6 separate regions of the Homo sapiens genome follow, and regions 1, 2, 3, 5 and 6 are each linked to region 4. The links come from fine-mapping of genetic effects on gene expression. A gene starts in region 4. Each other region holds a variant in brackets. All regions are shown on one strand. Distances are from middle to middle. Region 1 has its middle 56 kb from the start of STK24-AS1. Region 2 overlaps STK24 (serine/threonine kinase 24). Region 3 overlaps STK24 (serine/threonine kinase 24). Region 4 holds the start of STK24 (serine/threonine kinase 24). Region 5 overlaps FARP1 (FERM, ARH/RhoGEF and pleckstrin domain protein 1). Region 6 has its middle 21 kb from the start of STK24-AS1.

The links. PIP is the estimated chance that this variant, and not a neighbour inherited with it, causes the effect. A credible set is the group of variants that fine-mapping cannot tell apart.
Region 1: its variant is the best candidate, but not a certain one, in a credible set for the expression of STK24 in whole blood (TOPMed, PIP 0.78).
Region 2: its variant is the best candidate, but not a certain one, in a credible set for the expression of STK24 in whole blood (INTERVAL, PIP 0.70).
Region 3: its variant is the best candidate, but not a certain one, in a credible set for the expression of STK24 in skeletal muscle (FUSION, PIP 0.89).
Region 5: its variant is the best candidate, but not a certain one, in a credible set for the expression of STK24 in cerebellum (GTEx, PIP 0.61).
Region 6: its variant is the best candidate, but not a certain one, in a credible set for the expression of STK24 in whole blood (INTERVAL, PIP 0.63).

What each region holds. Positions count from the first base shown.
Region 1 is chr13:98,631,005-98,635,090 of GRCh38, forward strand. No RefSeq gene overlaps it. Among named protein-coding and RNA genes, the nearest start is that of STK24-AS1, 56 kb to the left of the region's middle. The variant T/G (reference allele first, on the strand shown) is at 1,909.
Region 2 is chr13:98,460,881-98,464,966 of GRCh38, forward strand. It overlaps STK24 (serine/threonine kinase 24), which reads right to left. Exons shown (of 11, transcript NM_001032296.4): 7 at 2,811-2,956; 8 at 894-1,017. Among named protein-coding and RNA genes, the nearest start is that of FARP1-AS1, 27 kb to the left of the region's middle. RefSeq lists an enhancer at 2,837-3,338. The variant G/C (reference allele first, on the strand shown) is at 2,125.
Region 3 is chr13:98,546,852-98,550,937 of GRCh38, forward strand. The region is part of intron 1 of STK24 (serine/threonine kinase 24); the gene reads right to left. Among named protein-coding and RNA genes, the nearest start is that of STK24, 28 kb to the right of the region's middle. The variant C/CA (reference allele first, on the strand shown) is at 2,010.
Region 4 is chr13:98,575,028-98,579,113 of GRCh38, forward strand. STK24 (serine/threonine kinase 24) reads right to left here and starts at 2,080. Exons shown (of 11, transcript NM_001032296.4): 1 at 1,718-2,080. The coding sequence starts at 1,759. It overlaps STK24-AS1 (STK24 antisense RNA 1), which reads left to right and starts at 2,228. Exons shown (of 1, transcript NR_046542.1): 1 at 2,228-3,814. RefSeq lists silencers at 1,114-1,983, 2,034-2,343, 2,364-2,513 and an enhancer at 2,604-2,793.
Region 5 is chr13:98,451,983-98,456,068 of GRCh38, forward strand. It overlaps FARP1 (FERM, ARH/RhoGEF and pleckstrin domain protein 1), which reads left to right. Exons shown (of 27, transcript NM_005766.4): 27 at 1-3,194. It overlaps STK24 (serine/threonine kinase 24), which reads right to left. Exons shown (of 11, transcript NM_001032296.4): 11 at 1-1,227. The coding sequence ends at 1,191. Among named protein-coding and RNA genes, the nearest start is that of FARP1-AS1, 18 kb to the left of the region's middle. The variant G/C (reference allele first, on the strand shown) is at 1,656.
Region 6 is chr13:98,596,434-98,600,519 of GRCh38, forward strand. No RefSeq gene overlaps it. Among named protein-coding and RNA genes, the nearest start is that of STK24-AS1, 21 kb to the left of the region's middle. RefSeq lists an enhancer at 367-416. The variant A/T (reference allele first, on the strand shown) is at 2,442.

The DNA of each region.
Region 1 (4,086 bases), 56 kb after region 4:
CCTCCCAAAGTGCTGGGATTACAGACGTGGGCCACCATGCCTGGCCCTAAGTGACATTCTTGAGGGCTGTGTCTCAGGCTTCTCTTTCTGGTTCTCTATGCGCTGCTAGGCTCACATGCCTGCTATTTGTAGGTAGATGTCTCTCACTGACCTCTGTGTGAGTCCGGACCATAACATCCTACTACCCATGACCCACTTTCCCCCGAGTCTGACAGCCACTCAGACGCTCTGTGGCCATGGCTGAACTCTTCATCTTTCCCACGATTGTGGCTTCTTTTTTTTTTTTTTTTTTTTTGAGATGGAGTCTCGCTCTGTCGCCCAGGCTGGAGTGCAGTGGCACGATCTCAGCTCACTGCAACCTCTGCCTCCCGGGTTCAAGCGATTCTCCTGCCTCAGCCTCCCTAGTAGCTGGGACGGCAGGCACCTGCCACCATGCCTGGCTAATTTTTTGTATTTTTAGTAGAGACAGGGTTTTGCCATTGCTAGGATGGTCTTGATCTCCTGACCTCGTGATCCACCCTCCTCGGCCTCCCAAAGTGCTGGGATTACAGGCGTGAGCCACCGCACCCAGCCGCTTCTTGCCATTTTGTTGTTGTTGTCTCAGTGAATGGTGCTCATGACACCCACTGGACTGCTCCACCTGAAATTTGGGAGTCGTCCTTGCCTCTTCTTCCTCCCATGCCTCAGCGTTCCATCAGGCATTCACCAAGCCCCCTGAGGCTCCTCCCAGTCTCTCCTCCATCCCTTCACCTGAGTTAGGGCCACCTCCGACTCCCCCCCAGATTCCTGCAGCCACCTCCTAATGAGGTCCCTGCCCCCCATCTTGTCTTCTTCCAACCCACTTTCTACACTGTATTCACAGTGATCTTTCTAGGATGCAAATTTGATCAGCATCCCACCCCTACCTCCACTCAAAACCCTCAAAGCCCTCAGAATAACGTTCAAACTTCCTAAAATGCCCCACAGTAAGGTGGCCTGTTCATGACCAAATTAGCAAACTGGAGTTTGTTCGGAAGAGAATCCTTTAAGACTGGATTTCCAGTCCTCCTCCTCCTGTGTGCCCAGTGGGATTTTGCCTTTGTCTCTCAGTAGCTTCCCATCTCTCCATCCTCCCAGGCAAGTCCAAGCTTTGGGGCTCAGTGGTACAGAAGCCCAGCAGGAAAGGAGGCAGTAGGAAGCTCTGAGAGGCTTTGCTTTTTTCATTTGTCTATTTCTTCTTTTTCAATTTTTTTTTAAAACTTAGAGAGAGCATCTCATTTTGTTGCCCAGGCTGGAATACAGTGCAGTGTTGGGATCAAAGCTCACTGCAGCCTCAATCCTCCTGCCTCAGCCTCCCAAGTAGCTAAGACTACAGGCTTGTGCCACCATGCCTGGCTAATTTTTTAAAATATGTTTTGTAGAGACCAGGTTTCGCTATGTTGCCCAGGCTGGTCTTGAACTCCTGGCCTCAAGTGATGCTCCTGCCTCAGCCACCCAAAGTGTTGGGATTACAGCATGAGCCACCACGTTCAGCCTCCTTTGTCTATTTCTTTTGAGACGGAGTCTCACTCTGTCACCCAGGCTGGAGTGCAGTGGTGTGATCTCGGCTCCCTGCAAGCTGTACCTCCCAGGTTCATGCCATTCTCCTGCCTCAGCCTCCCGAGTAGCTGGGACTACAGGCGCCCGCCACCACGCCCGGCTAATTTTTTTTTTTTTTTTGTATTTTTAGTAGAGACGGGGTTTCACCATGTTAGCCAGGATGATCTTGATCTCCTGACCTCGTGATCCGCCTGTCTTGGCCTCCCAAAGTGCTGGGATTATAGGCGTGAGCCACTGCGCCCGGCCTCCTTTTTCTGTTTCTTAATACAACATTGTCAGCGCACAGGCCCGTTCTCTGCTGCAAGGTGTTTCCATGTTTTCTTTAACACT[T/G]ACAATCACCTTGTGAGGTAGGTTTTGTTCTTATTGCCATTTTGCAGTTGAGAAAACAGGCTCAGAGAACTTAAAAGACTTGCCCAAATTCCGTAGTCAGCAGGAAGCAGACCTAAATTCAAGTCCACATCCAAAACAACGAATGTCTTCCACTCTCTCATGCCGTTTCTCATACCCTTTCTGCTCCTTTTGCACTAGATTTCTCCAATGCCACTTCCTTCTGCATTTTCACTTCTTTTGTGCAAGGGAAGTGTTTCTTCTGGCTTCCTGTCTCAGCTCTCCCACGGAGCCCTTCTGCCTGTTCTATTGCATTCCACAGAGCTGATGAATGAGCTATCACTGAAAATGGATCTTCTTATTTGAAAATATAATTATTAATTTAATTTTTAGAACAAGTAATTTGTATCAATGGCTCAAAAATTAAACACACAGAAAGATATAGAGGGAAACTATTTCTACTATCTCCCATCTTTTTGTTTCCCATCGATCATCACTTCCATTATTTTCTTATTTGTTCAGAGCTTCTCCATGTGGTACAAGTACCAATATCTATTCTGTTACCCCTTACCTTTTTTATTTATTTATTTATTTACTTATTTATTTATTAATTAAGACAGAGTCTCGCTCTGTTGCCCAGGCTGGAGTGCAGTGACACCATCTAGGGTCACTGCAACCCCTGCCTCCCGGGTTCAGGCCATTCTCCTGCCTCAGTCTCCCAAGTAGCTGGGATTACAGGTGCACACCACCACACCTGGCTAATTTTGTATTTTAGTAGAGATGAGATTTCACCATGTTGGCCAGGCTGGTCTCAAACTCCTGACCTCAGGTGAACCACGTGCCCACCTTGGCCTCCCAAAGTGCTGGGATTACAGGTGTGAGCTACCACGCCTGGCCACCCCTTACCTTTTATACAGAATTTTGCATACTATACACTCTTCTACACTTTCCTTTTTTCATTTAACAATAATATATATAAGAACCTGTCTTTTATCAGGGCATAGAAAGTTATCTCATTCTTTATTATAGCTGCAGAACAGTTCAATGAATGGATGTATTCCATGATTTATTTAGTTAGTTCCCTAGTGATGGAATTTGACTAGTTTCAATTCTTTGGCTATTATAGAAAATGCTGCAAGGAATAACCTTGAAGATACTTCATTTTGCACACATAGAATAAGTATGCCTTGTCAAAGGAAATACTTGATAGTGCCAAATATCTGTCATTATTTGTCTAATATTATATATTGTCTAATACCCATTCCCTGAATGAGAGTGCCTGGCCAACAGTTTGCATTGTCAAAGTTGGGAATTTTTACCAATCTTATAAACATTGGTATTTTACTGTAGTTTTAACATGCATTTTGTTTATGTGTAATGGGAACCGTCTTTTCATATTTTAAAGCTGTTTGTATTTTTTTTTGATAGCTGTTCATGTTCTGCTCTTTCCGGGATGGTGTTCTGGCCTTGTTGACACTTAAAGATTTTTGTATATTTCGGAGAGTAGTAGTTTGCTTGTGATATAAATCACATAAATACTTTTTTTAACTTTGTCATTTGTTTTCTGACTTTGCTTATAATGCTTTGTGCTATGCAAAAAGTGACTTCGTTTTTTTAAACTAACATACAGTAAAATTGAATTGTTTGGTGTGGAATTCTAGGAATTTGAACACACGTATAGACTGTGTAACCACCACTGCAATCAGCAGACAGAACTGTTCCATCTTCCCCAAAAAATTCTCGGTATTATCTTTCCCTCCACCCTTCCAGAGACCACCGATATGTTCTCATTCACTCTAGTTTTCTCCAGAATATCTTATAAATGGAATTATAAATATGGAGCCTTTGAGACTGGCTTGGCCCACTTAGCAAGCATAATGTCTTGAGATTGGCCTGATGTGTTGCCGCATTGATTACGTGTTCCTTTTGATTACTGGGTAGTACACCATTATATGGATGTACCACAGCTGTTTGTCCATTTACCTGTTGAAGGACAGTTCGATAGTTTCCAGTTCTTGGCAATTATGGATAGAGATATATAAGCATCTGTGTTGGCTGGGCACAGTGGCTCATGCCTGTAATCCCGGCACTTTGGGAGGCCGAGGCAGGCGGATCCCTTGAGGTCAGGAGTTCGAGACCAGCCTGGCCAACGTAGTGAAACCCCATCTCTAATAAAAACAC
Region 2 (4,086 bases), 110 kb before region 4:
AAAAAAAAAAGTTTTAAATAAACTGGGCGTGATGTCACATGCCTGCAATCCCAGTTACTCAGGAGGCTGAGGTGGGAGGATCACTTGAGCCCAGGAGTTTGAGGCTACAGTGAGCTCTGATGGCACCACTGCACTCCAGCCTGGGCAACAGAGACCCCGTCTCAAAAAAAAAAAAGAGAGAGAGAGAGAGAGAGAGAAAAGTACTTTACTAATGAAACCCTGGAAATAGAAATCAGGTCAAGATTGGCCATTCCAATGGCTGTCTAGGACAGAGACCGAGTTTCTACTTTTGCAACCTCTATTTGGACATTTAACACCTGTTCACTTATCAAAGCGGGACTTGTAGGATCAACAGGGGACAGCCACTGGCCCACCCTGCCTGAAAGAAACTACACCACTATGCTTTACAAGACCCTAAATATATGGCCTTTCATAAATTTAACAGGCATAAAACCAATTAATCAAAATTGTTTTACATAAATATCAAAAGCAATGCATTTACTTATAAGGTCCTTAAAACTCAGTCACAAAATTATGATATGTATGTAAGTAACCGCAACATGCACAACAGTCCCTCAGAGCTATGAAGTCATTTCACGGGTCACCCCCAAACCCCATGACATTGCCACATCGGGACATCCTAACTCAACAGCAGGGCTGCAGAGAGCAGAATAGAGTGGCACAAAACAGACCAGAGGCCAGACTCCCTGGTGTGAACACCTGGATCATCAGACAGAACTAAAGCTCTTCATCTGCCCATCCCCTAGCAACAAAATTCCAGGACAGCTGCCACAAAGGACCCCAGCCGCACCCACAGCAAGCTTCACACACAAGTGCCTCCAAAACACTGCAGACTGAGGTCAGCGTGGCCATTCTGGAGTGAGCAGACGTACCTTATTTCTGTCCAAGTCCGATGGCTGAAGAGCTCCATTCTCGAGATTCTTGGGATCTTTTTCTCGGATTGTGAAGATCCAGTCCCCAGAATCACTGCCCCCCGAGGCTTGGCCATCTGTTTCCCTTAACACAGAAATGCAGGAAATCCCATCAGTGCTCGCACACCTGCTCTGGGGGCGCTGGGACGTTCAGGGGGAGGCCGCCTGGGGACCTCTAAACCCACACCCACCAGCCCCAAGTCCCCACCCATCACACCCTTGTCCAGTCCCTCTGGGATTTCCCAAAGACCCCCCCGCCTCCTCCCTCACAGAGAAGAGACCATCGGGAGGTGGTTCCACAACTCCCTGGCGTGCCAGTGTGTGCATGCCCACCCTCCTCCTCCTCCCGGAGAACACCTCCCCCACCTCCCTGGGAGCCCATCTCTGGGACATCAGCTTCTCTCTGCTGGGCTCCTCCTCTCACCAGGGAAGCAGATGTCCCTGTGTTGGGTGTGGTGGCTCATGCCTGTCATTCCAACACTTTGGCCTCACCTTGGCCATCTCTCAGCCCTGGTTCTGGGATTCACACTCACTGCCTCTATTTGGTACCCTCCACTCGCTCCAAAGCCCACCCGTGTCCCTCCGAGCGCTCCCTCCCCCATCATGAGATGATGGTGTGCTGATCACTCCCTGTCCTGTATGGGCCTCAGAGGCAATGAGCCCCAGGCCCTGCTGATCATCCCCTGATGCCTGTGGCCCCATTAAGCCTGCACCTCCTCCCGCCCCTCGGCCATACCTCTCCCCTCTCACTCACAGGCGGAGCCTCACCCTCACACCTAGGGGCCAGCCTCACTCCCCCACATGCCCCAACTGACACCCTTTTTTCTCTCGGCTCAAGTGACCTCCACAGAGCAGTGGCCCCTAAGCCCGCTTCACCTGCCCAGCTTTCTCACCTGAACTCCACACCTCGGTGCCACTTCACACTGGACGTCTCTCCTGGACAACTCAGACTCACACACGGTTCACCCCACACTCGGCTTCCCGCACCACACATCACAACACCTGGTGCCACGCTGCCCCAGCCTGGAACATTGGCTTCCCTCCTTCACCCAAATCCACCGCCGCGTCCTGGCTCTCCAAACCTCTCTCCAGTCTCTTTCTCTTGTCATCCCTGTTGCTACCCCAGCAATCTCCCAATGGCAGTACCTCAAGAACTTCCGGGGGCAGTGGTCTCAACCTTGGCTTTAAACTG[G/C]AATCACCTAGAGACCCTGAAAAACCACTTAGGGTCTCATCCCCGGAAATCCTCATTCAACTGGCCTGGCACATGGACCTGCACTGTGGGCCAACTTTAACTTCTGCCAAGGCATGCACGAGAACAGACGAGTCCCACGCTCGGACTTCCAGACACAAGTCTGCCCGACCACCTCCCCCAGCCCTCCCCACACAAATGGCTCCAGCCCCACTCCGCCTCTTAAGCCAAGGGAATTCCTAGATGCCAAACTTGACAGCAATTCTCAGTAAGCCACTCCTGGTACAGAAGCTTCTACCAGACACAATACAGAATCACAAACACATGCATTTCTGGCCTTTCAGACATCCATGTAAAGCAGTTTCACCTGATCAGGGTTTTACAAACAGGAAGTTTAATGGAAAACAGAACAGAACAGAACGAAACAAAACAGAATGAAACAGCCAGGTCCAGTTCCCCATGCACAGCTCTACCACAAGAGTTCACTCGCAGAAACTCCACCAGCAACGTCAAGAGGCTAAACAACTCCCAAACAGGCCCAGGCTGTGTCTAACACAACAATTGCCACCAACCTGGATTGTCTAAAAAAAAAAAAAAACTCAACAGAAAACGAAACCCACACCAAACAGTGACAAAGACCAGCGGATCCCTCCCACACACATGCTTGGGTCACTCAGGGGCCGACTTACGCGTCGGAATCCTCGGAGCTCGAGTCGTCATGGCTCTGCTCGGCCTTCCATCTCTTGTACCTGTCGATGAGCTCGGTCAAGTAGGAAGTTTTCTTTGCATTGCGTAGTATAAACTTGTGCTTCAATAACTCCTTAGCAGTGGGTCTCTGGAAAAACACACCCAACAATTAAAGTATGAGATGAAGTTCTTGGTCCTACCCCAAAGGACAGACTTCTGCCTCAAAATGTCAACCGCCACACTGACACCTGATGGCTGGACTCTCTACTCCACAGCGCTTCTCACTGCAACTCACCCAAAGACGAGTCGCTCAGGACCTACGCCTGGGCTCTGGGTGCTATGGTGGGCAGGGCACTGTCTTTCCAAGGATGTCCCTAATAAATACATTTTCACAGAAAACTCTGCACAGAGCTTCACAGGGATCATTTAAGAGAGCTTAAATGATCTGGTCGGGCGCAGTGGCTCACGCCTGTAATCCCAGCACTTTCGGAGGCCGAGGCGGGCAGATCACGAGGTCAGGAGATCGAGACCACCCTGGCTAACATGGTGAAACCCCGTCTTTACTAAAAATACAAAAAAATTTAGCCGGGCGTGGTGGTGGGCGCCTGTAGTCCCAGCTACTCAGGAGGCTGAGGCAGGAGAATGGCGTGAACCCAGGAGGCGGAGCTTGCAGGGAGCCGAGATCGCGCCACTGCACTCCAGCCTGGGCGACAGAGCAAGACTCTGTCTCAAAAAAAAGCTTATCTCCTAGTTTATAAAATACTTTATGACAAATGCTGACAAAATATATGTTCTGTGTTGTTTAACTTTTTTTTTTTTTTTTTTTTGAGACAGTTTTGCTCTTGTTGCCCAGGCTGGAGTGCAGTGGCACGATTTCGGCTCACTACAACCTCGCCTCCCCAGTTCAAACGATTCTCCTGCCTCAGCCTCCTGGGTAGCTGGGATTACAGGCCTGCACCACCACACCAGGCTAATTTTTTGTATTTTTAGTAGAAACGGGATTTCACCATGTTAGCCAGGCTGGTCTTGAACTCCTGACCTCAGGTGATGCACCTGCCTCGGCCTCCCAAAGTGCTGGGATTACAGATGTGAGCCACCATGCTGGGCTGCTTTGTTAACTTTCTGTATTAACGTTTGGCCACATCCAACCATATAATAGAAATGTCAATTTGGAATTATCTCAGAGAAACTGGAAAGGAGCCAGGAGATCCCCTTTTTCCTGTCTGCTGAAAGAGCAACTGGATGCGCTTCACCACCAACTTTCCCGGTTTAGAAGGG
Region 3 (4,086 bases), 28 kb before region 4:
CTGAGGCCCTGAACATCTGTGTTCCCCCTTCCTTCCATATCTAATTGTTGTTTTTTTTTGTTTGTTTGTTTGTTTTTGAGATGGAGTTTCACTCTTGTTGCCCAGGATGGAGTGCAATGGCACCATCTCGGCTCACCGCAACCTCCGCTTCCCAGGTTCAAGCAATTCTCCTGCCTCAGCCTCCCGAGTAGCTGGGATTACAGGCATGTGCCACCACACTCAGCTAATTTTTTTGTATTTTTAGTAGAGACAGGGTTTCACCATGTTAGCCAGGATGGTCTCGATCTCCTGACCTCGTGATCCACCCGCCTCGGCCTCCCAAAGTGCTGGGATTACAGGCGTGAGCCACCGCGCCCAGCTATCTAATTGTTTTAAGGGGTAACTTTTATGTTAAAATTTATATTAAAATTGTGGCCAGGCCCAGTGGCTCACACCTGTCAACCTAAGCACTTTGGGAGGCCAAGGTGGGAGAATCGTTTGAGGCCAGGAGTTAGAGACCAGTCTGGGAAACATAATGAGACCCCATCTCCACCAAAAATTTAAACAATGAGCCGGGCACGGTGGCACACGCCTATAGTCCCAGCTACTCGGGAGGCTGTGGCGTGAGGACTGCTTGAGCCCACCAGTTCGAGGCTATAGTTAGCCATTACCACATCGCTGCACTCCAGCCTAAGCGACAGAATGAGACCCTATTTCTTTAAAACAAAATTAATGACCAACTATGATAAAAAGTCAATAGGTTGTTTGCAGTCAGCTGGTTTTCCAGTATTTGTACTGAGACACCTCTTGTCCAGGATTCCTGTAATGACACGCCATGGGCTGGGGAGGCAAGATTAAGAGTAAAATCAATAGCTGTGAAATGGTTTTCTCTGCAAGGCTCCCAGTTGTATTCAGCCATCAATTTAGTAAACTTCGCCTTATTACCAACTCTTTGTGACCAAAGGAGCAAACTGAGAAAATACATGATGTGCAAGCACCTTTCCTATACTTCAATATCACAGCCTCATTCACCTTCTCATCTCCAGTAAACTGATCCCACACTGTAGTTCTTATCCACACAGAGCAAACTACTGCTAAACCCTCATGGTAGATGAGGCTATTTATGCAGCTGGGCCACCAAGCCCTCCCCTCTCTCCCTTAAGAACTCAGAGAGACTCTAACTTCCCGCTCCAGCAGCAAATCTACTGGAGGAGCTGACACCACATGAAGAGAAGAACGTGGAGTCTACGGCCAGGTGCATGTGGCTTCAAATCCACCTCCACCTCTTACAAGTTATTTGCCTCTCTAGGCCTTAGTTTACTCACCTGTAAAAAATACAGAAAAATGCATACATATTATAGTTCCTGGGGCTAAAAATAAGATGTTTTCTTATTCTCCTGGGGCTAAAATAAGACAATTTTTTATTTTCCTGGGGCAAAAACAAAGTTTTTTTTAAAACTGGACATAGTAAGTGCTCCCCTGTTCCCATTATGGTGTGACCTGCAGCCTCAGCTGTGTTGTCCTTTCTAAGCCACAACTGCCAATGCTACATAAAGAAGCAGCTGAATCACAAGTGACAGGCACACCCAGTAAATTCCAACTAAAGGCTGAGATAGGAAAATAAATCATCAAGTGACAAGAAACTGTCTCATCTCAAGGGTTTACCCTCAAATCACACAGCTGATGATGCGTACACTTCACTATTATTCTCCCTCGTGTCACATCTTTCTACATGAAAATAGAACAAATGGCTGGGCACGGTGGCTCACACCTGTAATCCCAGCACTGTGGGAGGCTGAGGTGGGTGGATTACCTGAGGTCAGGAGTTCGAGACCACCCTGGCCAACATGGCGAAACTTTGTCTCTACTAAAATTACAAAAATTAGCCAGGCATGGTGGCAGGCACCTGTAATCCCAGCTACTCGGGAGGCTGAGGCAGGAGAATCACTTGAACTTGAGAGGTGGAGGTTGCAGTGACCCAAGATCATACCACTGCACTCCAGCCCAGGCGACAGAGTGAGACTCTGTCT[C/CA]AAAAAAAAAAAAAAAAAAAAAAAAATAGAGTAAATGACTAGATCTACCATATGACCTTCAATACACATGTGGCTCTCCCAAGGTATGCCCTTTAGTAATAACAAATAGAGAAGACCCCGATCAGTGCCCCGGGGTAGGACAATGGTCATGAGGCCTCCTGCAATTAGGCTGTTGCTAATACAAGCCCCAATGGAGACACTATCCTGAGACCATGTAGATAACACATGCTGTGAAACACAATTTCAGTGAAGAGAATTTTTTTCTTCTGACCATCTGAAACATATGCAGCTAACCACCAACAATGCTTGTGCAACTTCCTCCATTAGCCTAAATACTTCTGTCTTAGTCAGCTCAGACTGTGCAACTTTTATAAACAACATCGATTCATTGCTTACAGTTCTGGAGGTTGGGAAGTCCAAGGTCAAGGCACTGGCAGATTCGGTGTGTACTGAGTGCCATTCCTCATGGATGGCACCTCCTAGCTCTGTCCTCACATAGCAGAAGGGACAAAGAAGCTCCCTCGGACCTCTTTTGTGAGGGCACTGATATGGTTGGAGGTCCCCTTCAAACTGCATGATGAAATGCAATCCCCAGTGTTGGAGGTGGGGCCTGCTGGGAGGTGTTTGGATCATGGGGGTGGATCCCTCGCGGCTTGGTGCTGTCCTCATAATAGTGAGTTCCAGCAAGATCTGGTTGTTTAAAAGTGTGTGGCACCTTCCATCTCTCTCCACTGCTCCCACTCTCGCCATGTGACTGCCTGTTCCCACTTCACCTTCGGCCATGAGTCAAAGCTCCCTGAGGCCTCCCCAGCAGCCAAAGAGAAGCCTGTACCATGCTTCCTGTACAGCCTGCAGAACCATAAGCCAACTAAACCTCTTTCCTTTATAAATTGCTTTATAGCAACAGAAGAACAGCCTGAGACAGGCACTAATTCCATTCATGAAGGCAGAACCCTCATCAGCTAATCACCTAATCACCTCCTAAAGGCCCCACCTCGAAACACAATTGCACTAAGATTCACAACATGACTGTGGAGAGCCATAAGCATTCAGACCACAGTAGCTACCTATTTCCTTGCCTCCTGACTATGCCTGGTGTAACCTCACAGTTAGGTGGTCTCACATCTCTTCAATGATCTTGACTTTTCCACAAGAATCTCACTTCCACAGGTGGGTCGTCTGCAGCATACTACTAGCTCATTAATACACTTTATTTATAGTGGCTAGGGTTGTAACACTGCAGGCTTCCCTTTGATGACTCAATTCAATACTCCACAAAGATTTTCATCCTAGTTCATGAAACGTCATTAACACTGTTAGTCATTTACAACTGAGGGAATTCTCTAGAAGCAGTAAAAGCTTTCTTGTTTCTTCTTTTTCATTTTACATAGGAACAGGCCAAGCACAGTGGCTCATGCCCATAATCCCAGCACTTTGGGAGGTCAAGGGGGGAAGATCGCGTGAGCCCAGGAGTTTGAGACCAGCCTGAGCAACATAGGGGGAACCTGTCCCTACAAAAAATAGTTGGGCATGGTGGTGCACACCTGTAGTCCCTGCTACTTCGAAGGTGAGGCAGGAGGATCGCCTGCGCCTGGGAGGTAGAGGCTACAGTGAGCCATGATCACACCACTGCACTCCAGCCTGGGTGAGGAAGCGAGACCCTCTCTCCAAAAACAACAACAACAAAAAGGAATGGCCTCTTTCTTGTAGTTTTGTCTTCTCTCTCTAAAGACAAACCATCAGTATTTATCACTCAAGTCCAGTTGTCCTTTCTAATACTTATACTGGTGGTCCCATGAAAGCTCAGGGACACAGCATCCTTTTCCCAGCAGGGTAGAAGCCTAAAGCTCTGGGCTCAAAGGTAAAAAAATACTCATTTGCATGTAATTTTGCATAAACTCTCTTGTTTAGTTCCAGATGCCCAATTCTAAGTATGCAAAATAAAATGAAATCATTTATACAGCTTACTGCTTCCAGTGTTTTCAATTCAATGCTTTAACAATAAAAGCAAAAAGAAAACCTTCTGAATCAATTTCTGAATTAAGTTCCTTAATCAACTTCTGAATTAAGTTGAAGA
Region 4 (4,086 bases):
AACACGGTATAAATATCAACCTAAAGGAAATATTGATAAAACTTTTTTTTTAAATCATTACAAGAGTCCTTTCTTGCTCGACTAGTAAGAAATTACTTTTTTCACCCAGTTCACTCTGACCTACACACCTCTAAATTCATACCAAAGCGGCTTTAGAAAATACCAAGAAACCACATCTGATTGTTACCCAGCAGTCAGCAGAAGTTTAGGTTTTGAATGCATGCTAAATTCAACGCTCCTTAAATGAGAGTCGACAAAAGAATATTCTTCAAGCATCTTCCCAGTCACTCTTAAGATAATAACTTAACTGTTGCTGCTTAAATGTATATTTATTTACTGCTTAAACATATATACACACATATATATACTGCTTATATATACACACACACACACACACACACATATACACACACACACACTTGGACTAAAATTCTAGCTGCCATTAAAGTGGTAACTTTGAGTTCCTATTTTTCCAGAATTCAAACCTGAACAGTGAAATCCAGTTTTCTTTTTACGGTTTCAAAAAAAGAAGGGAGAGGGATGATCTCACTGGAAGAGGCGAGCAGACCCCAGAGGCAGTCCCAGGTCTGGGCTCTGTGCTTCTCAGCCCTCAAGACACAGGGAAGGAGCCTGTTGGTACCTGTAAATCAACCAGTAATCTACTTGGATGCTTTTGGTTTTCTTCAAACACTTAACGTTCACTCAGCTAAACTGGCAGAGCAAACTTTCATGACATATCCTAACTGCATCCTAAGATTTCCATCCTAAGCATTTTGCCACCATTTCTGCGCCTACAAAGTTTACAAGAGTTAGCCAAGGACGGTAGCTTTGTTTTTCAAAGGGCTAAAAGCAACGACAACGAAAACAACAACAACAAAAAACCTTTAACTTATACATGTAAATTTGAAATTCAACTCCTCTCCCACTCCCCAAAAAGTCACTGGTAGGCCAAGGTGTCACCAAGTACCGAAAGAGAGGTTTACTGGGCGAAGAATTCCTGTAAATGCAACCAAGTCTCAAAGTGAAAGTCCAGGGTCCCGGGGCCGGGCCCGGGACCCTGGTGCGCGGCTGTCCGAGGGATTCCTCCTTCCAGAAGGTTTGCAACTCGCACTTTCCCCCGGTCCGCAGGTGCACGGGGGCTCCGGGCAAAGCCACTGCAAGTGGAACTCGCGGTTACCTTCCTCCACTCCACCCTGCCTACTCCGCTCGGGCCCGGACGAGTCCAGGCGCGCTCCCCGTCCCCGCCCTGCCCAGGTCTCCCGCCCGCCTGCCCGGGGGTGGGGGACGAGCCTGGGGGACGCGTCCTGGGGCCCTCCGCCAACCCGGCCACCACGCAGGGCCCCGGGACCCGGCGGGGGCCTCCAAGGGCATCACTCCACCTCACTTCTCCCGGGGACAGGGCCACCCAGGGCCTGCAGCTCCGGAAGAGTGTTGGGGCGAGGGGAGCGCGGAGGACTAGGCGCCCGCACCCCCACATCCGGACCCAGGCCGCGGTTCCTACGGCTCCTGCACGCACACGCCGGAGACCTCGGCCGCCGGAGCCGGCAGGGACGCCCAGGGACTCGGACTCGGACCCCCGGCCGAGCCGGGCGCGCGGGGAGCCAGGCTCCGGCGCGACCCCGGCCGGCTGAGCGTAGGGGGACGCCGTGTGGATACCGCCAAGTTGCTGCTTCCGCCCCGGTCGCGCATCCCGGCCCCGCGGCCCGCGCCCGCCTACCTGCATGCCGGGCAGGCCCGACTGCACCGGGGAGTGAGCCATGGCGCTCAGGACGGCCACTTCCTGGGACGGGACGGCCGGGCCGCGACGATCCGCGCGGGGCGGCGAGGCCCGCGGGCCGCGCGCAGCCCTCGGGCGGCGGGGCCGGCCGGAGCCCGAGGCCACCCCAGCCCTGGCGGGTCCCGGCCGGGCGGCGGGGGCTCAGCGGCGGGTGGCGGGCCGCGTCTCCATGCACGGCGCCAGGGAGGAGCTGCTGGGGGCGCAGGGCCTCGCGCGCACTGCCGCCGCCGCCGCTGCTGCCGCTACTGCTGGGCTGGAGCCGGGCGGCCTGGGCCCGCGCGCGCTGGCCGCTGGAGCCGGAGTGGGCGCGCACAGCCCGCCGAGCCCGCGAGCGCCGAGCGCGTCCCGCCCCGGCCCGGCCCCCGCGCCCGCCCCCACGGCCCGGCCGGGGACCCCGCCCCGCGCTTCCGGGAGGGGGAGGGGAGAGGCCGGTGGCCGCGCGGGAGCCCTAGGCCGCAGCCGCCGCCTGTCGGCCCGGCCCGGGTCCCAGCTGCTCCTGCGGCGCTCCCACGCCCCCGCGGGCGGGCGGCGGGGCCGGGAGGGGGCCTCGGCTGGGGCGGGCGCCGGGAGGGACCGAGTCGGGGCCGGAGGCTGGCCGCGTGCCCACCGGGCCGGCGCCGGGGCGAGCCTGGGCCGCGGCCCCCTCTTCCCGCCAGCCAGCCCACCCCGCCCCGGCGGCCTCTGGGAAAACGCGTCCCGGGCGAGCCCCTGAGGGCAGGATCGGAGTCGGGGGCACCTGGGGAAGGAGAGCGCCCCGTGGGGCCTCGGCCGGTGGCCTGTGCCAAAAGGCCGGGCAGAGCTGCTTCGGTGTCTGGGTGAAGTTTCCAGCCAACCCAAGAAGGAAACCGAAAGGGAAGAGGCCGAGAGAGAGGTTAATTCCTAGTGCTTTGGTTACCGAAAACAGCCCGGCTGGGACTGCTGGGCTGGGAACTTAGCTAAGCAGTGCGGAGGCTGAACCCCACCATCTCTGGGATCCGCAGCAAATCAGAAGCCCCCACCCACGATAAGGGGAAAATGGGGCGCAGAGGGCAGGGAGGAAGGGAAGAGAATGGAAGGAAAGCGCGTCTGGACTTTGAACTGCAGCCCTCTCCCTCTTTCCCTTGCCTCGGAAGCTCCAGGCCCACTCAGCACCAGTTCTGTCTCCTCTTTTCAGCCGCCTTCTCTCTAGCTACTGAGGGGAAAAGTCAGGATGAAGCGGGTCCCTCGGCCTCCAGAAGGTGTTTTATTACAGTCGCAAACAGGTAGAGCGGCAGCCACCCCAGTGATGACTCCCTGCTCCTTAGATTGTAGGGACGCTGGCACCTCACTCATGCTCCTAAGTGGCCATTTTGCGCCCTGGCTGGGCGAGTTAGGCAGACAAAATGAGCCCCCAAAAGTTTAAAGGCCTCCACCAAAGGAGTATTTCTTTTCTGAGGTGTCATTGTATTCCATCCACGAACTTCAGTTCCCCCGGGTGCTCTGGATCTGACATGGAGTAGGATGCTAACATCTAATCCCTTCTTTCCCTTTGGAAAGATGCATGTTTTTTCTCGGAGTCCTAGGGAATACCTTAGAATACTTTCATGGTTGTCATTGGTACACCCATCCCTTGAGGAGCCCTGCCACCCGTAAGTAGGACTGCAAGGAAATACAAAATTAAGAGAAGTATGAACCCTGATACCCAGGAACTTAAAATCAGGTGTATAAATTTTGTACACCTAAAAAATATGGTACCTAAAGAGGCGAACAGCAAAACAAGCAAGAATGTGAATCTTTAAAATGTTTCTATTCTTCAGCGCAGCCCAGGAATTCTACCTAAAGTAACATATCCTAAGGCAACAACCAAGAAGTGTGGAAGAATGCATGTAAGAAGACACAGTGATGTTTAGAATCCTGGGGAAACGGAACAGCCAAAAAGTCTCACAGAGGTTAAGTAAATAATAGCATTTTCATACGAGTACTATGTAGTCATTTAAAATTATGTCTTTCAGTACCTAGTAATGGGGAAAATGTATTCATTATATATTATTAAAGAAAATACAGGGTACAAAACACTGTATATAGACTGATCTCAAATGACTATATATATATTAATATATATGGCCTACAGACACACAGTCATGTATTGCTTAACAATGGGTATACATTCTGAGAAATGTGTTCTTAGTTGATTTTGTCACGTGAGCATCATAGAGTGTACTTCCAGAAACCTAGATGGCATAGCCTACTACACACCTAGGCTATATGGTATGACGTATTGCACCTGGACCACAAACCTGAACAGCATGTGACTGAACTCAATACTGGAGGCAACTATAACACAATGGTAA
Region 5 (4,086 bases), 120 kb before region 4:
CAAGCAGTCCAGGGCGCTGACCTGGGCACTCGGCAGCTCCAGGCCTGGGGACTTCTCCCTGGAGTCTTCCAAAGTGTCTCATCACACACACACAGCCACGAGTACACACGCACGGCCACACATACACAGCAGGTGCCCTGTCCTCTGAAGAGTCACATTTCAAGGAGTATGCAAAATAAGCGTGTTATAAAATTTATTTGTGTAAGCATTCAGACATTTTTAGGTGGGAAAGATGATATGCAGAATCCACTACAAGGTGCAACAGAAAATCGTATTGGAAAGGACGGTACATCTGGCGCAGACCAGCAGTGGCACGATTCCAAACAAATGTCAGACGAGAGCGCTTCATGGGGAGAAACTGAAAATTATAATTTAAAGCTTCATGAGGCAAGATATGTTCCAATTTAAAACACTAAGAAATAGTACCATCGATGAAAAAGGAAATCAACCTCTAGGTGTACCAAAAGGGGCGTAGGGCAAACGGGGAAAATTTGCATTTGTTGAGGTACAAATAGGAGTGTTCTGTAAGAGAGGGGCATTAATTATTAATGACAAACCCTGCAAATACAAAATAAAACCCAAATCACTGGTCACAGAATTCAAAATGTACATGTAATAAAGGCAAGGCAATAGACTCAAGTTATGGCCTGTCGAATATTTACTCCACTGACGTTATCTACAGAAGCACTTGGCCAGTTTGTACACAGTGATTCCTTATGCACGCCGAAAGGGTTTCCGTAAAAATGACATTATATACAAATCTGTACACCCATCCACCAGAGCGATTCTCCAGCTCCCAGAGGGAGTTATCAACTTAAAGCAGGATACCTGAGGTTTCATGTCTTTAGTTGCCTTATCATAATCCCAAATATACATTTCAGGGTTTGTTTTTGTTTTTAAAGACACTTTCCTGGAATATGTGCACTATGGTTAAAATTAAAAACAAAAGTAATAAAATAAAATAAAATGATCGCTGGAAGGAGCTGACCCTCCCCACCCATCTGAGAGACTTCATCTGGCTGCAGCACAGTGAAGACTGTGTGTGTCCCTGGACGGGCGCCTGGCGCTGGGGTGGCTCCCAGTGGCGCACCTCTTCGGTGGAGTCAGCGAAGGCTCTCGTTGACTTTTAAAAAAGGAGGAGGATGAAGAAGGAAAAAAGGAAAAACAAAACCCCAAATGCCAAAGGAATTTCAGTGGGATGAAGTTCCTCCACCACTTAGAGAGTATCTAGGGAAAAAGAGAGAGAGAGAAGTCAACACATGTCATTTCTCATCCCTGTGCAAAAATTCATATAGTAACCAAAATCTTAGTTTTCATAAGAAATTCCAAGTCATACAAAAATAAGTGGAGCAAATATCAATGTGTAAGTCTAATTTTAAAAGAATGCATATAAAGACTGAGAAGATCATGATTCTTACACAAAAACTCCAGAGCATGTCACCAAAAACCAAGAATGGGTTCAGCCTCCCTGGAGAGATGTGAATAAAACGGGAAATCATATCCCTTTTACTTACGATCAATTGTCAAAAAGTGAACATTGATCCATACATGATGACACAGTAAGATTCCAGGGATGCATATGCATTCCCGATGTGAGGGCAGGAAACCCATTTTGGCCATAAAAATAGTGATGCAGTCCAAGAATCTATTTCCTA[G/C]AACTGCTTCCGAAATATGGTCCAAAGCAGGAACAACGTGTCTGCACAAAGATGTCTCTCGGGATTTTCGTAATTACACTAATTTGGAAACAACTCTGATGCCCAACAGTACAGAATCAGTTAAGTAAATTATACAAACTGAAATAACAGACTAAAAATGGTAATTATCTGTATTTACATATATATATTAAAGCAATATTAAAAATATGTACAAGTTTAAAAGTACATACAAAATTACAGATTGGGCATCCCTTATCTGAAATGCTTCTGGCTTTGGATCTGGGAATATCCGCATTATACTTACCAGTGTGCAGCCCCAAATCCGAAATCTGACATGCCCCAGAGAGCAGTTCCTTTGAGCCCCATGCTGGCGCTCAAAAGTTTCAGATTGGGGATTTGGGATATTCAGCCTGTATATGTGCACTATATAAGTATATTTACATGAACAACTTCTGTATCCTAAATTAAGTACTATAGAAATTCTAAAAAATCTTCTTTGCACTATAAGGTAGATAAGAGAATTCAGTAAGTTTATGACCTGGTATGACAACAGAAGGCAATGCACCCAAAGATGCTGATGAGATTTGGGCTACAGTGGTGGGATCATGGGTAATTTCTGTGTCTTCCAAAAATTCTACAAGATTGTCTTCAGAAGACAACAAAGGGTGAGAACGGGGTCCCCTCATGACCACAATTCCCTCAACCATTTTACAACAGACTCCAAATCACAGGTCCAGGAGAGATGGCTGAGGATGTCTTTGACCAGGCTTATCTCAAACGTTCCAATCTAGAGCTCCTCTTTTCAGGCATTTGAAATACTTGGCATCTCTCCCAGAGAACAAATGGTTACATAAGGTCCTCCCAAAAGCACACATTAGCCACGGAGCCTAAGACTCAACTATCAAGAAATACAAATGACTAAATCACGGGATGAGTTGATGTCACACAAAAGAATCCAAACATTAATTCCAGCTGAGACAGAAAGGCTCTGAAAATGCTTCAGAGGAGAGGCGGCTCTCATTTTTCCTACAGCCATCCACTGAAACAACATGTTTGGAGCAAAACTGGCAGGAAGTCTAAGCCATGGCCACCGTGGTTTTGGCAGCCATCGGGGTGAACGCTCAGTGGGAGCTTCAGGAGCAGGGAAGGAAGAAGTGGGTACCACAGCCAAGCCTGCAGAGAGATGATAAGCACCTCAAGAGGCAGCTCATCTGAGGACAGAGGAGGAAAGAGGGCACTCCTCATCACAGACAAAGGAAAGAGAGCACCAACTTGGCTTCCCCCATGCATCACTGCAAAGTAAAGTTTTAAACACAACACAGACATCAGGTAGCTACAGACCCGCCCGAGGGTAAATAGGGTCAACCCCAGCCACGATGCCCAGTGAGCACGTAAAATGTGCTGCGTCTGAATGGAGATGTGCTAAGTGTAAAACACACACCAACTCCAAAGACGGTCCCTCCAAAAATGTAAAATACCTTATTGATGATTGTTGTTATTAATGTTGAAATAATACTTTGGATCTGGCAGGTTAAAAAATGTATTGTTGAAACTAATTTCACTTCTTTTTGCTTTTTAAAAATATGGCTACTAGAAAATGTAAAATTCTCTTTTTGTTTGGTTTTTAGAGACAGGTTCTCACTCTGTTGCCCAGCCTGGAGTGCAAACGTGATCACAGCCATAGCCGCGAACTCCTCAGCTCGAACAATTCTGCAGCCTCAGCCTCCCAAGTAGCTAGGGCCACAGGTACAAGCCACCATGCCTAGCTAAATTTTTTTTTTTTGGTAGAGACAGGGTCTTGCTATTTTGCCCAGGCTGGTCTCAAACTCTTGGCCTCAAGCGATCCTCCTGCCTGGGCCTCCCAAAGCATTGGGATTACAGGCATGAGCCACCACATCCAGCAGAAAACATAAAATTCTGTGTGTGGCCCACGCTGTACTTCTACTGGCCAGCACTGGTACAGATCAACTTGCCTTAACAACTAAAAGAAGAGGAACAGAGAGATAGGGGCCTGGGAATGGGAAACGTGGATCAGTTCAACACATACAAGCCACACACTCTGTGCCCTGGAGCTGCCCTGGGGAAATCAAGTCACGTATATAAACAAACAGTTCATAACAATTTCAGGCAATTCTGGACAGTGTGGAAAGTATTGGTTTTAAAAGTAATACTACAAAAGCAGAGAGCAAAATGCCCAACAAGACAGTAACAATCCTACCCGTTTCTGGTTTTGTTCTATTTGTTTTATTATAAAGCTCTTTCTAATGGGAAATAAATGCCTCTAGAATGAGGTATGTGATGCTAAGTTTGAGAAATCAAAAAGTTTGTGTTCAGGCAAAAGATGGGTGACTTTTTAATTCTATTTTCCTTTATTCCTATATTGTTTTTAGTATCAAAGGAGGGAGGGATCGTCCTTCAATTGCCTCAAAAT
Region 6 (4,086 bases), 21 kb after region 4:
AAGAACAGAATCCATCAGAAGAGAGATGGTTCTGAATCTCACCACCACGTCTGTAAACCTATTGACATTGGTCCAAATCCTCTCTTGTTGTTATAAAGGGGATGTGCCCTTTCTCACATCTGAGTCCACTTCCTCCACCGCCCCCTTCTCAGTGACCTCATGCTATCTCTGGTTCCCTATCACTTCTGTATCTTAAGTTTCTCATTTTGACTCAGTCTTTCCAATCAGCATTTAAACATGCTCATGCCTCTTCCATTTTAAAAGAAACAAAAACAGGCCAGGTGTGGTGGCTCAGCCTGTAATCCCAACACTTTGGGAGGATGAGGTGGGTGGATCACAAGGTCAGGAGTTCAAGACCAGCCCGGCCAAGATGGCGAAATCCCATCTCTACTAAAAATACAAAAATTAGCTGGGCCTGGTGGCGGGCGCCTGTAATCCCAGCTACTCGGGAGGCTGAGGAAGAGAATTGCTTGAACCCAGGAGGTGGAGGTTGCAGTGAGCTGAGATCGCGCCACTGCACTCCAGCCTGGGCGACAGAGCGAGACTCCATCTCAAAAAAGAGAAAAAAGAAAAACAACCTTCCTTCCACCTCACATACCTCTCCAGCTACCATTGCAGTACCTCTTTCCCTCCACGGACAAACTTCTTGGAAGTGTGTTCCATTCCTTTACCTTATCCTCCCTTCTCAGACCCCTCCAACCTGGTGCACACCCCCACCAGTCCTCAGAAACCATGTAGCCATATTCAATTCACCATAACCTAGGCAGATATAGTTCATGGGCAATTTGCAGCCCTCTGTCTTTTCACCATGGCACCTGACATAGTTGGCTATGCTGGCTTCTGGAAGCAATCTCTTCCATTGACATTTGTATTATAATGTTCTTCTGGTTGCCTCTGACCTTTGAGGTTTCTCCTTCTTAGTATCCCCAGTGGGCTTAATAAGTATTACCCATCCTTTATTGTATTGTATTGTATTTTTTTATTTTTTTTATTTTTTGAGATGGAGTCTCGCTCTGTCGCCCAGGCTGGAGTGCAGTGGCGCAATCTCGGCTCACTGCAAGCTCCACCTCCTGGGTTCACGCCATTCTCCTGCCTCAGCCTCCCAAGTAGCTGGGACTACAGGCACCCGCCACCATGCCTGGCTAATTTTTGTATTTTTAGTACAGACGGGGTTTCAATGTGTTATCCAGGATGGTCTCGATGTCCTGACCTTGTGATCTGCCCGCCTCGGCCTTGCAAAGTGCTGGGATTACAGGCGTAAGCCACCACGCCCGGCTATTTTATTTTATTTTATGTTATTTTAATTTATTTTTTGAGACAGAGTCTCACCTGTCACCCAGGCTAGAGTGTGGTAGCACTAGCTCGGCTCACAGCAACCTCTGCCTCCCGGCTTCAAGCAATTCTCCTGCCTCAGCCTCCCAAGTAGCTGGGTCTACAGGCGTGCACCACCACACCCAGCTAATTTTTCATATTTTTAGTAGAGACGGGGGTTTCACCACGTTGGCCAGGCTGGTCTCAAACTCTTGACCTCAAGTTATCTTCCTGCTTCAGCTTCCCAAAGTGCTGGGATTACAGGCGTGAGCCATCACGTCCAGTCTTACCCATCCTTTAAATACTAGAAGCCCTAAAGGGCCAGTTCCAGGCTCTCTCATCCTCTCGCTCCTCTTTACTCCCTTGGGTCTACTATACCATTTGCTTTACCTAATGATTTCCAGTGCACATCTCTAGCCTTCTCTCCTGAGCTCAAGACTTAGAAATCCATCTCCCTGCCCACTTCATTCGGATGTTTCCTAAGCTCAGGAGCTCCCCCTAGAAACTCCCTTCTCTTGTTCCCAACGTCGACTAATCAGACCACACAATCCCTCCTGCTCAAAAACATGGGACCCATCCTTGGTGATCCTTGGGTCCCCTCCTCCTGGTCAGTCAGGGAGTCCTATTATCCTAAATATAGGATCCTAAATTTCAGAGCTTTCTAAATAGTTCTCAAATCCATCCATTTCCTCCTTCTGTGCTGTTATCATCCTACCCGAAACCCTTGCTACTCGGTGTGGTTCAGCATTAGGAACATCATTATTTACCTGGGGGCTTGTTAGAAATGCGGTGGCTCAGGCTGGGCATGGTGGCTCACGCCTGTAATCCCAGCACTTTGGGAGGCCAAGGTGGGAGGATCGCTTGAGGTCAGGAGTTTAAGACTAGCGTGGCCAACATGGTGAAACCCTGTCTCTACTAAAAATACAAAAATTAGCCGGGCATGATGACACATGCCTGTAATCCCAGCTACTTGGAAGGCTGAGGCAGGAGAGTCGACTGAACCTGAGAAGTGGAGGTTGTAATGAGCCGAGATCATGCCACTGCACTCCAGCCTGGGCAACAGAGTAAGACTCCATCTCAAAACAATCAAACAAACAAGCAAACAAACAAAATGCAGTGTCTCAGGTGCA[A/T]CCCAAACACTGATTCTATTAATCAGAATTTACATTTCATGCAACTGCAAGTCATTTGCATGTTTGAGAGCATCTCTCTAAACCACTCTTATCTCTCCCCTGGTCTCCCTGCTTCACTCTTGCCCCTTCCAGTAGATTCTCCACCAGCAAACCAAATCATGTTTCTCACATACTAAAAGCCCTTCAATGGCCTCCTATTTTTCTTAGAATAAAGTCTATTCTACCTAGTCTTCCTTTAATAAGCTAGTGATTGAAGATACTGTTGTCTTTTGTCTTTCATCTTTACTAAATCTCTTTTGAGACAAAAAAATTGACAGCTTTAATTTTTAAAAAGGACCTTAAATCAAGAAATCTTTTAATTTTGTTCTTTTTTGTACAAATGTTACATTTGCTTTGCAAAAGGACTATTTCTCAGTTCGTGCCATTATTTCATATAAGAAATGCATACAAAAAGCCCTTAATTATTAAAGAAGTTGTCTTCTTTGGAAAACCCAATACATTATGCTCTGAAAGCTCTAGAGAAACCCCTTGGATAGATGGGATTAAAATCTGAATGTTTTAATGCATGGAAAATAAAACTCTTTCTAATTTTATTTTTGTATCAGGAAGACAGTGCCCTGGACATGATGGCCACTTCTTTAAAAGAACATCATCTGATGTGCCCAAATATGTTAAAAACAGGCTCAGCCTTCTGTTTCAATTCCCAGGTCAAAAGCCAGTGTGCAAAAAGGTTTTGTTGTCATAGGTAACCTATGTTCCAAGAAAACAAAGGCACTCTGTTCAAAGTCCAAAACTCAATTTAAAAAAACGTCTATTTCATTAGTTCAAATGCAAAGGAAAAGAAATATTTGGGAATAGAAATATTTTATAAAGCTACAGGATTCCATCCCAAATATAAAATTCAATGTGGATTCTCTTCAAAAGCTTTCTATACCTTGTAATTTGCAGTGGGGTTGTGGGGACTGCTGGTAGATCTTCACAAAGTATGTCTGGAATGTTGACTGAAATCCTCAGGCACTGCTGCTTTCAGGCAGCAGAGCCCAAGTTACTGCCAGCAGGCTGCAAAAGAGCATCTCCAGGATGGCATTAACCCCTCCACATCACTGGGTGGCCATCATTAGTGCCCTCATAGGGCAGTGTCTTCTTGCCAGAGAGGGCCACAAGCAAAGGCAAGATTTTCAATTGTTTTTCTTCTCAGAAACAGCATCTCAGCCTGTCACTCAGGCTGGATGCAGTGGTGTAATCATAGCTCACTGCAGTCTCAAACTCCTGGCCTCAAGTGATCCTCCCACCTCAGCCTCCCAGGTAGCTGGAACTATAGGCATGTACCACCACACCCTGCTGATTTTTATTTTTTTTAGAGATGGGGTCTCACTATGTTACCCAGGCTGGTCTTGAACTCCTGGCCTCAAGTGATCTTCCCACTTCGGCCTCTCATAGTGCTGGAGTTATAAGTGTGAGCCACCACACCCACCCAAAGGCAAGATTTTCTAGGGACAAATTCAGGAGAGATGACAGTGGCTTCTGCAAAGTAGGAATCAAATAATCTGAAATGTGTGATGGGTTTGAAGGGACAGAACTTGAGGGGAGAGGAGGAGAAGAATAAAAAACACTCAAACAACACAGAGAAGGAAGCCAGTCAGAA